Homo sapiens: one gene and its partners. The protein of the gene in region 1 interacts with the protein of each later gene in a biochemical or structural test. Each region holds a gene or a part of one and is shown on either strand. Other genes may lie near its edges.

Region 1 (3,047 bases):
ACCTTCAGAATGAGGGAGAGGTTTTTAAGCTAATTATATCATTTCAGATCACTCATTCTTCCATTCACTCATTCATTCATAAATAACCACTCTCAAGCATCCTTCTTCTCCCTCACAGGGAAGGATTTGGGCCAGGCATTAAAAAACAGCAACTATGTTTAATGAGCACCTCAGTTAGTCCTCACCACCATCGTGTGAATTAGGTGTTATTACTTATCATCATATTGTTGATAAGGAAGCCGAAACTCTGAAAAATCAACTGCCAATGATCATAAAATTTGTAAGTGGTGAAGCCAAGAATTGAGGCCAGTTCTGCCTGACCACAGTGTCCACACACTTCCTGATACACCTGGGGGTGTTGGGCAGAGGGAGTGAGGTGAGGAGAGGCTTTAGCATTCAGACTCACTGTGTGTGACAGATCGTTTAACCACTTTGATTTTAGAGGATCAGTGGTGAACTGCTAGCAAGAAGTGGAGCTTACAAAAAACAAACTCGTTGTCTTTAGTTTAATTCTTTATTTGAACATCAAATAGGTTGAGAAAATTGTTTACAGGTGCTCGAGCATCCCGCTGGATTCTTTTTCAAAGTGCAAAAGAGGTTTACAAGTGTGTTTCATTAAACAAAGCAAAGCTGCGACAAAACCGAGTCACATCAGTAATAGTATGCATCGGCAAAAGGGCATATTAATCCATCAAACACAATTTGGCATTTGAGCCTTTTCCCATAAAACAAGAGCTCTACACTGAAGAGTATGTAGTGCACAAAAAGCATTGTTTATCACCTGTGAGAGAACAGAAACTGGCATAATGTCACTTATTAATTCAAGTCTCTATAACCAATGACCTCTCTGTGAATGCAAAGGGGTCTGTGTCTCAGGCACCTGCTCATGGGACAATATGTTGTTTCTAGGGTGCACAGCTCTAAACACACACACTGACGATGGGTTTGGAACATGGCAGCATTTACATATTTTAAAAGTTCAGGCACAATTGGATGCAAAAAAAAGAATAGAAATTTTTCTTGAATCTCAAAAGACAGTGCAAAATTGAAGTGCCATAATAGAGGCAGCAATTACTTAGAAAACAATTTTAAATGACTAAAAACGAGGCCACACTTTAATTCAATTGGAAAGGAAATGCAGTTGGAAACAGAGCATAATTAACGCTACTGAAAAGATGGATATTTGGGACCAAAGTTCATTTGCTCCAGTTGAGAGTAAGTTTTCAGGGGATTAACTTGGGAATGGTGCAGTGTAATCTAGATCACGCTCCCAAGACCTGCACCAAAGAGAATTATGGTTGCCTTTTGAGCTACTGTATGACTCTATTTGCCTTTCACATAACTAGCTTCCCCAAGCAGATCTGCCTGTGAATATTAGACATTACTATGGTGTTAGTGATCACTCCCAGTACCCACAGTCCATCTCATAATTGGAAAGTATGAATAGGAAAGTATTTGTAATCAGTGTCATGCAGGGGAAGGAGTACTCTAAGCCAGTGGCCTAAATCAATGGCCATTTCAGTGTATAAGATTTCAAGGTGAGAACACCTTAATGTGATCAAAAGTAAATTATCAGTAAGTCCCTTATTTGTTCAGCCCTCAAAAGGCATGGGCTATGGCTTGGTTAAACATATCTGCAAGGTTACTAGGGAAATCAAATCAAAGACTGCACTTCCTTAGGGGTTAGATTTTGCAACCTACATTGATAGGGTCTTCTCTTTGGATGACCTAGCCTCTCATAATTGCTGCATGATGGCATTATAGAATCATTACGGCAAGCTAGGCAATGGCGAAAAGAAACACAGACCACTAGCTATTCCATGGACTTTACTGCTGATGTTGTTCTTTCTTCTCTAGAACTGAAGCTGCCATTTTAGAAATGGCTGTAAATGGAGCTAGTTGATTTGTGGTCTCCAGGGCAGAAGTGGACTCTACTGAACCCTGGTGCACACCCAGAATTAACCATTTTCCTCCAAATACTTTCAATACTCTTCTTAATATATTTGCCATTCCCCAGATTCCTGAATCCACTTCCCCACCATACCTGAGCCCCCCAGATAAATCACATCTTTTACATTTTAACTTGCCTCAGAGTGGGGGAAAGCAGAGGCAAGAGTTTTTTTTTAAATCATGTTCCTACACCCAATACCAACATCAGCCAGAAAATATCTGCTGTCCATTAGTGGCACTTCAAGTAAAAATACAAAGAGATTTCCAAAGTTGCTGGAGACCCCTGGGCGAACATTTCAATCATCTGATGTTCTCTGCCCACTTCAAATGTAGTAGTATCTTAACATGAATAGAAACACATTGGATGAATAATGTAAAACCTTCCACTGTATAATTGTTTGGCTTTAGCTGGTATTACATCGTCTAGTCCTAGAAATTTTTTTTTGTTTTATTTTAATTTTTTTAAAAGAAAATCTAAGTATAAACATTAAAAAGAACCCACTGACCCATTAGCTACTGTCCAAAAATATTACTACTGATATTTTGGTAAAAGCAAAATTAGCTGCCCTGAATAATTTTCCTTTTCAGGCATAATCTTTGCTACATAAGATTGTCTGTCATTCAGTATCCAACAATAGGCATCTGGATTAGTGCTATTTTGTCTACTGTGGATACAAAAGTTGATATGAAATGTGATCTTCATTTAAATGAATAATCACCAGGCTTTAGGCATAAATGACTGTATACATGACAAGGTAGCTTGAAAAGTATACAAAAAAAAAAAAAAAAACTAAATATTTTTCCTTGGTTTTTGCATGTTAACCCAGTCAAATTAAATCCAGAACAGAATTACTACATTCAATTGTCTGATAAACAAGCAATGTAATTTCAAAAAAATATATATTATACTATATAAGGTGCTTCTTAAACAAACTAAGGTGCTTCTTAAACAAACAGCAACAAAAGAATTATGTTCTTAAACATATCCTTAACACAGATACATAAAATTGTCCCCAAATTTAAGTGCACATAAAAACTTTTTTTTTTTTTTTGCCCTCCCAGATTCTCAGTCCTTTGGTGATCACTTAACTGGACAA
Region 2 (3,500 bases), about 18 Mb from region 1:
TCCATTTAATACATATAACGCACTGAGGTAGAAGTTACCAGTATTCCCACATTTGGATAAATAAGCTGAGGCTTAAAGGTAGAGTGCAACTTGCTCAGGACGCAATGGCTCCCAAGTGGAGGAGCCAGGATTTGAGTCTGTCTGTCTCCAGAGCCTGCCCTTAGCCTTCTCACAGACAAACTCAATTCTCATCTGTGAGCTCTGAAAAGCTACCACCACCACCCTATTCCTAAGTAACTATTTATAATGAAAACAAGCAGGCATGAACTGCCCAGTTCTCTCAAAGTAAGTATCTTTTGAAAAACAAGAGCTAAGTGTCTTTAGCAAAAAAAAAAGGCAAAACCCTGCTTTCTCTTCTAATTAACTCTCAGTAAATAAGGATAAATGGAGCCATCTGGGTCCACTGACCCTTTTCATTTCTCAGTGTTCTTAAATCACTTAACGAATAACTTATACAAGGATAAAGATATACTAAAAAGCAACTCTATTAGAAATTTTAATAAAAATTTAAACAACAAACCCACATTTTCATTATACATTTTTCTGCTTATGAAAGTATATATAGTTGAAATGGGCAATGCCCTTTGAATGCAATTAACTGCTCAACAACTGTCTCGCATGGACCTGGAAATCACCATCCCAAGAATATCGAGTCCAGATTTCAAATACATAGGTTCAAATACAATAGGTTTCAGCTCATTGTTGCTTCTGGTTCTTTTTCTTGTACAGTCTATGATACACAACTGTAAAGCCAATTAGGTTGATCCACACAATGAATGTTTTCATTTCCATATCATCTATTTCCTTCCAATCACCCTTGTATACACACCTGCCTTTAGCATTTGTCCACTTATGAACTATACCAAGTAGATTTTAGTATATCTATCACAACTTTAGTCACATAATTGTTAAATGTATTCTTATATATTTTCATTAATTAAATATTTACCTTAATCCCTCTTAAGCCTACAAGATGGAGAGGGCACTGAACTACCACCCGGGAGGGTTCTTAGTAGATAGTGGAAATTCAGGAATGTGGATGACTGGATGCTCTGGGGAGTATCAGAACAGCAAAGGCACTCGCAAGAAACAAACACCTGACTGTACTGTTTATAATTTATTATTTAAATCAGAAATGCAAACTTAAATATTCCTGGGAGTCAGACAAGCATGCTGGACACATGGGAGTGGTATAGACAAGGGTGAGCTAAAAAGGGCTCTCTCTAAAATCACTAAAATTACTTTGTTTTTAAAATTGTGTGTGGGGTCAAACAAAATTGTGGAGGCAAGATTTAGGTCTTTGGGTGAAAGTCAGCATCCACGATTACACACCACTTAGTTCCAAAAATGATGAGAGATAGCTTATAAACAACAACCATATATGTAACAAGGTGAATAAATGCAAATAGGAAATACTAGATCTAAAGGGAGTATGAAGGAGGAAGGTATCTGTACAAGAAAACTGAGGAGATGCAGAGACTGCAAGTAACCTTTTAATTTGGTCATAAGCTTTCTAAAATGAAAAGCTATACACTTCTTATTGACTGGAATTATTTGGAAATATTTGCTGGTTTTTCAGGAAGATGAAATTATTTCCTACCCCTACTACACTGTTACATATAGAACCCACTTCATTTAGGTAGAAAAATCCATTTATGACAAAAACAGTCGTCTTCATTTTGTGGGAAGGACACAGACCTTCAAAGATTTATATGCAGCACCCATAGTAAAAACAAAAAACAAGAACTACCAGAAATTATACTGATATTGTGACTAAAGACCTAAAATAGCATAAGGGAAAGAGACTACCTAACATTGTGATTTAGCGATATCAGATACAGGGAAATGTCTATAATATAATAATAACGACAGTGAAAGTCAGATTAAATTTTATTGGCTCAGGTATGTAAACACAAATGACCACATTTCTAAACCTGTTAAGAGCCTTTTACTGAGGACACTGACTAAGATAGCTTTGCTTCCCTTTCCCAAATGTGAGATAAAGCAAATTTTGATACACAATTACCGTTAGTGCCACTCCCTCCCTTAATAAAAGGATCCATCTGAAAACAGAGCAGGAACATAACTCAAAGGGACTCCTAAGTGGGAGGAAACATAAAACACGAAGTACTCACTGCAGCTGCGGTACAATCCCAGAACTCTCCGAAGCTGGCGTGGCAGGAGTGATGGGGGTCATGGGAGTCATGGGGGAGGGATACAGTGGAGTGGTGCCCGGCAAGGGTGCAGTTGTGAGAGTCTGTGAGTGGAAGAGCTGTGGTGCCTGGCCTGAGGTTCCCTGTGTTGCCTGCTGGGACGTTGACTGCTGAACGGCTGCAGCTGCCACTGCCTGTTGCTGCTGCTGCTGCTGCTGCTGCTGCTGCTGCTGCTGCTGCTGCTGCTGCTGCTGCTGTTGCTGTTGCTGCTGCTGCTGCTGCTGCTGCTGTTGTTGTTGCTGCTGCTGCCTTTGTTGCTCTTCCAAAATAGACAGACTATTGGTGTTCTGAATAGGCTGTGGGGTCAGTCCAGTGCCATAAGGCATCATTGGACTAAAGATAGGGATTCCGGGAGTCATGGCACCCTGTGGAAAGCAAGGAGAAAAACAGGTTAGGCTGGCTGCTGCTAAGTGTTTGTGGAACTTTCTTGGTGGAACAGCAGGTCAGGTGTGCAAAGACAGATGCCTTCGGAGAATAATGGGGTTATTAAACATTAATTACGGAAGAACCAGCTATTCTTATACACATTGCTTTCTTCTTTAATACCACACAGTGGATAAACATGAAGAAAAATGGATAAACTGAACTTCGGAAAAATTAAAAACTTCTGTTCTTTGAAAGACACCATTGAGAAAATTAAAAGGCAGGCCAGACTGGGAAAAAAATAACTATAATACATACATCTGAGAAAGGACTGGTAAACAGAATAATAAAGAGCTCTGACAACTCCATAAAAGAAGATCAACAAATAAAATAATAAAAAAGGGCAAAAGATGTGAAGGACATATTACAAATGAAGATACAGGCATACCTCGGAGATACTACAGGTTAGGTTCCAGACCATCTCAATAAAGCAAGCGGCATCAATTTTTTGGTTTCCCAGTGCCTACAAAAGTTATGTTAGCACTAAAGTCTATTAAGTGTGCAATAGCATTATGTCTAATAATATGTATATAACTTAATTTAAAAATGCTTTATTGCTAAAAATGCTAACAATCATGTGAGCCTGCAGCAAATCATAATCTTTTTGCTGACAGAGGATCTTGCCTCGATGTTGATGGCTGCTGACTGATCAGGGTGGTAGCTGTGGCAATTTCTTAAAATAAGACTGACGAAGTTTGCCACACTGACTGACTCTTCCTTTCACTGAAGATGTCTCTGTAGCATATGATACTATTTGACAGCATTTTACCCACACTAGAACTTATTTCAAAATTGGAGTCAATCCTCTCAAACCCTGCTGCTGCTTTATCAACTAAGTTTATGTAATATTCTAAAGTCATCAGT
Region 3 (3,500 bases), on another chromosome or scaffold:
AAAGGGAACAGAGAGAATGTGCAGGGGCTTCCTGGAACAAGGCAGAGAGCCTGCTGAGAGGCTGGAGGGACAGGTTGGAGAGATAAGCTGTATCTCACAACATAATATTGAATAGGAAAAATAAAAGTGTGGTTCTATGCCTTGCTTTTATTTTTGTTTTAATTTTTTTTGAGACGTAGTCTTGTTCTATTGCCCAGGCTGGAGTGCAGTGGCATGATCTTGGCTCACTGCAATCTCCGCCTCCTGGTTCAAGCGATTCTCCTGCCTCAGCCTCCCGAGTAGCTGGGATTACAGGTGTGTGCCACCACGCCTGGCTAGTTTTTGTATTTTTAGTAGAGATGGGGTTTCGCCACGTTGCTCAGGCTGGTCTTGAACTCCTGACCTCAGGTGATTTGCCCACCTCAGCCTCCCAAAGTGCTGGGAATATAGGCCTGAGCCACTGCACCCAGCTGTGCCTTGCTTTTAAAAAGTCAACCTCACAAGCACAATCTGGAGAGATGCAGTTTAACTGAATATCACGGGTAAAGAAAAAAAAACACATTCACAAGACTTTGAGATCTCGGTAAACTGTAAGCGCAAAATGAGTGACAGATGTGCCATGACCACTAAAATTCTTATGTTGAGGTAGGTGTCATTGATCAGTTCTCCTGTCTTCAATGATGCCAGTGACCAGCTTGCTTTGCTCCGGGCTGTCGGGCTGTTGTGTGATTTTCCTTTCTGAATGTTACACTTTAACGGGTACACAGGTAAACTGAAGCACATTCGTAAGGGAGGTCCACAGGACGATACAGATACTCGTCAGTAAATTATAGAAGACACAGTTAAAGGAACTGGGGCTATTTTGCTTGGAGAAGGAAAGCCTCAACAGAGACCCAATAGCTGTCTTCGAGTATCTAAGGGGCTGTCAGGAGAAGAGGCTTTAGTCTAGTGCAGAATGACCTTGAGGGTATAGCCGGGACTATTAGGCATACTGCAGCTCAATACAAGTGAGAGCTTTAGAGTCATCAGAGCTACGTGGAGATGGGGGGCTGCCTCAGCACAAGGAACAACCTGTCACCTTGGGCATTCAAGTCCATGCAGCGTGTCTTGGCGTGCAGTGAGGCAGGACCTGGCACCAAGGGCTGCACTGGACATCAGACTAGCTGACTCCTAAACCCTTTCCAAACCTGAAATCCTGCCTTCAGCTCCCATGTTCGTCACAAGAATTAATGGGGATTAGTTATGTGAAAGTGCTTTGTAAACTCTAGAGTGTTCTATATATATAAAGGGTTATTACTATTTTTTCATTACCTTGGAGTACTTCGATTCTATCCTGATTGCCATTGTCTCTACTTATCCCTCAGTTCCCTTCAACCTCATAAAAATGTCTAAATTATAAATGCAAAATGTAATATTATGACTATGATTCAAAATTTCAAAATGCTTCACAAATAGTAAATGGTTTTTCATCTTTTACTAGTGAGGGGCAGGTCCTATATTCAGTTTGCTTCTCATGGTCCTGTGTCTGTGGTTTCAAGGGATGGAGTAGCTAAGGTCTTACAGATCACCTTACAGGGAAGAACTAATTAATATCAATAGCACCCTCACAAAAATCTCTGGTAACAAAAATATCTCTACATTAATAAGCAATACACAAAAAATACACAAATAAATAACCAATACACAATAAATTGATAAATAAACCTGAGTCTACTCTGATAGAATGTGACTTCTGTCCTTTACTCAGTGTCTTCTGGTGGCCCATCAATTCTCAGGCAATCAGAAGGTCTGTTATTTGGTGGCATAGGTGAACTTGTCACAAGGTATTATGACTTGGAAAAATTAATTGCCAGATAAAGCCCCAATTCTACTTAGGTGTTCAAAGTATTTTCCCCACCTAACTCCAGTATCATCTCTAATGAAAGTAACAACTTGACAACTTTGAAATATCATCTCCTTTCATTTTTTTTTCCAGTTTTTTCTCCCTTCCATTTTTGTTTTTTGTTCACCAGAGGACTTAACAGAGAGTGACACAACATAGGCAGGCTGAGAGAAGGAAACTAGGAAAACCAGGAGAGAGCAAACTGGATACAGACACTCCTAAAAAGTACAGTTAACTCAGTGACAAAGCAGCCCTCACACCAATGTGTTCTCTAAACTGTTTATGTGTTTTATTATTTGACTGACTGAAACCCAGAGCAAACAAGGGATTCAGAGGCTGGAATTTACATAGAACATGAGAGAAGGTAAGGCTCAGATGAGGAGAAATACCAAGAAGTTTTGACATACTTCTCTTGTTGATGCTACGGATCACTGGGAAGAAAATATTTTTTAAAAGAAGCTATTAGTTTATGCTCTGTATTCAGTCTGACACCTTTTATGTGTTTATATTCCATGAGTGAGGCTTTTTAATGTAGATAGTATTTCTTCACATGACGATGACACCTATGAAGAAAAATCTACTCTATACTTTCCTATATTGTGATTATAGTGCTCTAATTATAAACATTCAGGGAAAGGGCATGGTGGCTCATGCCTATTATCCTAGCACTTTGGGAGGCCAAGATGGGAGGATTGCTGGAGGCCAGAAGTTTGATACCAGCCTGGAGAACATGACAAGACCCCGTATCTACAAAAATTTAAAAATCAGCTGGGTGTGGTGGTGTGTGCACATAGTCTCAGCTACTGAGGAGACTGAGGCAGCAAGATCCCTTGAGTCCAGGAGTTTGAGACTATAATGAACTATGATGGTGCCAGGGTATTCTAGCTGGGGTGACAGAGTGAGACCCAGTCTCTAAAAGAAAAAAAAAAGTCAGGAGTGTGCAGGAATAAATAGAGTCACAAATCATTGGCTAATCTCTTATGCACCTCTTCCAAACTCCCCAATCCATCTTTGTGGAAAGCTTGCTGAAAAATAAGGCAATGGGGCCTGTATTGAACGAGCCACTTTATTGTATGGTTTGCCTCACATTAATCTAAGCTTGAAGGACAAGCCCTGGATGGGATACTTGGCCATCAGTAGACCTAATGGAGGCCTGTTAGTGTTTGGTAAAGGTTCATGCCTTATAAGCACTAGAAGAAAATGCATGGCCAGCAGAGTGTAAGTATTCAATGTGTTCAATATGATTATGGCTGCACCAAAGCAGACACAAGTTAAAGAAAGATATTCTCCTCATGGAGCAGAGGATGAATCTTGGAGAAGCATGGGCTTCAACAATGACAAGTCCTCTGGGGGACAAAGTAAAGACATACCTTGAGTTCCATAGCTGGTGTCTATTGCAGACCCATCCCATGAATCCACAGCACTGTCCACACTGGGCACCGTGGAGGGGTACATGTCGGAGAGCTTGCCTGGCTTCTGTGCTGGTGAGGAGTCCTCCTCCACATCCCCCAGGTCACTCAAATGGCTAGAAATAGGGAACTTCTTGGGGCTCGATGCTGACTGGGCTTTATAGACAGGAAAGGAGTTTAAGTATCAGAGTAAATTTAAATAAAAATATACCAAGATACTCCGTGGCTAG
Region 4 (2,788 bases), about 26 Mb from region 1:
ATTTTTATTCTGAACCACTAGAGATTTGAAATAGAAAGGGAATAAGATCTTAAGAGTTTGGTGTGAAGAATGAAGCTTATTTTTTTTTCAGTAAAAACACCTTCTGTTAGGGGCTCACTATGGATAATGGTCATAGGCCAGGAGGTGACAGAGAATGTGATGCTTTGAAGTCAGGGCTTTCTCTGATTAAGAGTAAGTGACCTCATTGGGCAGAAGGAAGTGGTCAAAGGCACTTTTGATACATGCACAAGAAATGAGTGTGGCTTCCCTTGAGTTTTCTGGAATTTCCCTTGGTTTCTGACCTCCTTACCTTTCTGTATCGAATTAAATTGGTAAAAATAGGTTAGGCATCCTAAGAAAAACATGAAACGTAACACTCCTTTCTGGCTTAAGAGATTCTCAATGGCTTCCTCAAAAGGAGAGTAATTCTTTCATTAATGCTGTTTCATGTGTGTATTAGTCCATTTTCACACTACTATAAAGAACTACCTGAGACTGGGTTATTTATAAAGAAAAGAGGTTTAATGGACTCACAGTTTCACATGGCTGGGTAGGCGTCAGGAAATTTACAATCATGGCAGAAGGCAAAGGGGAAGCAAGGCACATCTTACATGGCAGCAGAAGAGAGGGTGAGGGTGGAACTGCCAAACATTTTAAAACAGATCTCATGAAAACTCCCTCACTATCATGAGAACAGCATGGGGGAAACCGCCCCCATGTTCTAATCACATCCCACTAGGTCCCTCCCTCAACATGTGGGGATTATAATTCCAATGAGATGTTGGTGGGGACACACAGCCAAACCATATCAATGTGTCTCTAAAACTTTAAAAGGCATCAAGGAGAGGGAGATCAAATTAAGGGAAGACATACTTATAATAGTGCAGGATGTCTCTGGTGGCTTGTAGCACGGGGATGCATCTAATCATTTTCAGTAGAGTCTGAAGAAACATTTGGTTGCCTCCTCCCACCCAAGTCCTTTGATATGGACTTATGAACTGAGGAATTATGAAGCAATGAAGACTGCTTGGGGTCTTCATCTAGCCCAACATCTAGGGGCTAGGTGTCAGGATGCCAAAGAAAATTTATCAGAGAGTAAAGTGTCCCTTACGGAAATTATGAAGTAGGTTAAGACAGATGTTAAGAGGAGGAGGTTGTCATTCATTGCACAGCTAGAAAGATTAGAAGAGACTGGTAGATACAGCCAAGAGTTGTCTCTGGTAACCATAATGAGAGCAGTTTCCGTGAACTGATGAGACAATTAGGAGGGTGGCTACAGGGAATGAAGAGGGAGTTTCCAGGGCAGCAGTGAAAACATGAGCTCTGGACCTTGTTTAGTCTTGGATATTTCACCATCCTCTCACAAAAATAAACACTCTGGTACCCAGTAAATACCTGATGAATGAATCTTTGGGAAAGAAAATCACTGAATGCATAAAGTCCTTTATTGAAAATATTGGGATAGCACTGCATTACATATAGTCAATATCCATAAATGAAGGGTCACACATTTCTGAATGGACAATACTGTTTTACATAGAGAACACAGCATCTGGATATGCTCTCACAATTATAGTATCATGGACTAAACTAGGTCAGAGTGAAGTATATGCAAAATGACCATTTTGTTTTTTTCCATTTTATTAATAGCATATGGTTGCAGATGGTGTAAATGGTAAACGTGATATCATGAGACATTCCTGATATCTCACACCAACACATTATTTAACGAGCAGGTTAAGGTGAAACTGCCAGTATGCTGTTAGTCAAGAGTCCTCAGTAGGAGAACTTGAGTGAAACGTACACCCAGGCTACAGATTTAAAATTTTATAGCATTCATTTAAATTTGCATGGAATTAAGGAGTATAATAATTGTTGATCTGACAGGAGGCCACTGGACAATTTGTTCTCTTTCACAAAATGTCTAAAATAGGAGAATAATGTAAAGGAAGTATTCTAAGAATTGCTTTTTTAAATGCAGATATGTAAATAGTACTTGTTATACATTTTTCCTTTCAAAAATTACCGGGGAAATAATTTATGACAGACCATTTTTCAGCTTTGGTTATTATTTGAAATTTTTTCCTACTAGCAAGCAGTCTTTGGCTTTCATAAAAGTCTGGTAATCAATAATATTGGTTAAGTAAGTCTTTATTATTATTATTATTGTTATTATTTTTAAGACAGAGTCTCGCTGTTACCCAGGATAGAGTGCAGTGGCACGATCTTGGCTCACTACAACCTCTGCTTCCCGGATTCAAGCAATTCTCCTGCCTCAGCCTCCCGAGTAGGTGGGATTACAGGTGCCCGCCACATAGTCGGCTAATATTTGTACTTTTAGTAGAGATGGGGTTTCACCATGTTGGCCAGACTGGTCTCAAACTTGTGACCTTGAGTGATCCACCTGCCTCGGCCTCCCAAAGTGCTGGGATTACAGGCAAGAGCCACTATGCCTGGACCTTTATTTTATGTAATAGATGTTTTATGATGTGAAAATAGGTTGATATCTTAAAAATAGGTTTTCCTTTCTATTCCAATTTTGATATGAATGCATTTCTTTGTATTGTTTTTTTCTCAAATAAATGAATCAAGAAACCAAGACAATTGGTCCAATTTGACGTTTTTCATTTGATTTAAAAAATGCAGAAATTAATATACTGAGTCCCTTTTAAGACAGAGGCCTGCTCGTTAATGTAAAAGCTTGGAAAAGTTATACAAAGAACACTCCGAAAATAAAGTTTTTGTTATTAACACAAATGATTTTGTAAGAAGCAAAACATTTTTTTTC

What was found. Proteins that work in one complex are often made in the same cells at the same time.
Region 2: the proteins of ESR1 (region 1) and TBP form a complex in vitro, tested with the Homo sapiens proteins (2 studies listed by BioGRID).
Region 3: the proteins of ESR1 (region 1) and GRIP1 form a complex in vitro, tested with the Homo sapiens proteins (2 studies listed by BioGRID and IntAct).
Region 4: the proteins of ESR1 (region 1) and NCOA7 form a complex in vitro, tested with the Homo sapiens proteins (2 studies listed by BioGRID).

The regions. Positions count from the first base shown.
Region 1 is NC_000006.12:152,100,728-152,103,774, reverse strand, and holds the end of ESR1 (estrogen receptor), read right to left. Parts: 3' UTR 501-3,047; downstream 1-500.
Region 2 is NC_000006.12:170,560,869-170,564,368, reverse strand, and holds part of TBP (TATA-box-binding protein), read right to left. Parts: intron 2,579-3,500; coding exon 2,136-2,578; intron 1-2,135. UniProt on the Homo sapiens protein: The TFIID basal transcription factor complex plays a major role in the initiation of RNA polymerase II (Pol II)-dependent transcription.
Region 3 is NC_000012.12:66,389,077-66,392,576, forward strand, and holds part of GRIP1 (glutamate receptor-interacting protein 1), read right to left. Parts: intron 3,427-3,500; coding exon 3,232-3,426; intron 1-3,231. UniProt on the Homo sapiens protein: May play a role as a localized scaffold for the assembly of a multiprotein signaling complex and as mediator of the trafficking of its binding partners at specific subcellular location in neurons.
Region 4 is NC_000006.12:125,929,747-125,932,534, reverse strand, and holds the end of NCOA7 (nuclear receptor coactivator 7), read right to left. Parts: 3' UTR 501-2,788; downstream 1-500. UniProt on the Homo sapiens protein: Enhances the transcriptional activities of several nuclear receptors. Involved in the coactivation of different nuclear receptors, such as ESR1, THRB, PPARG and RARA.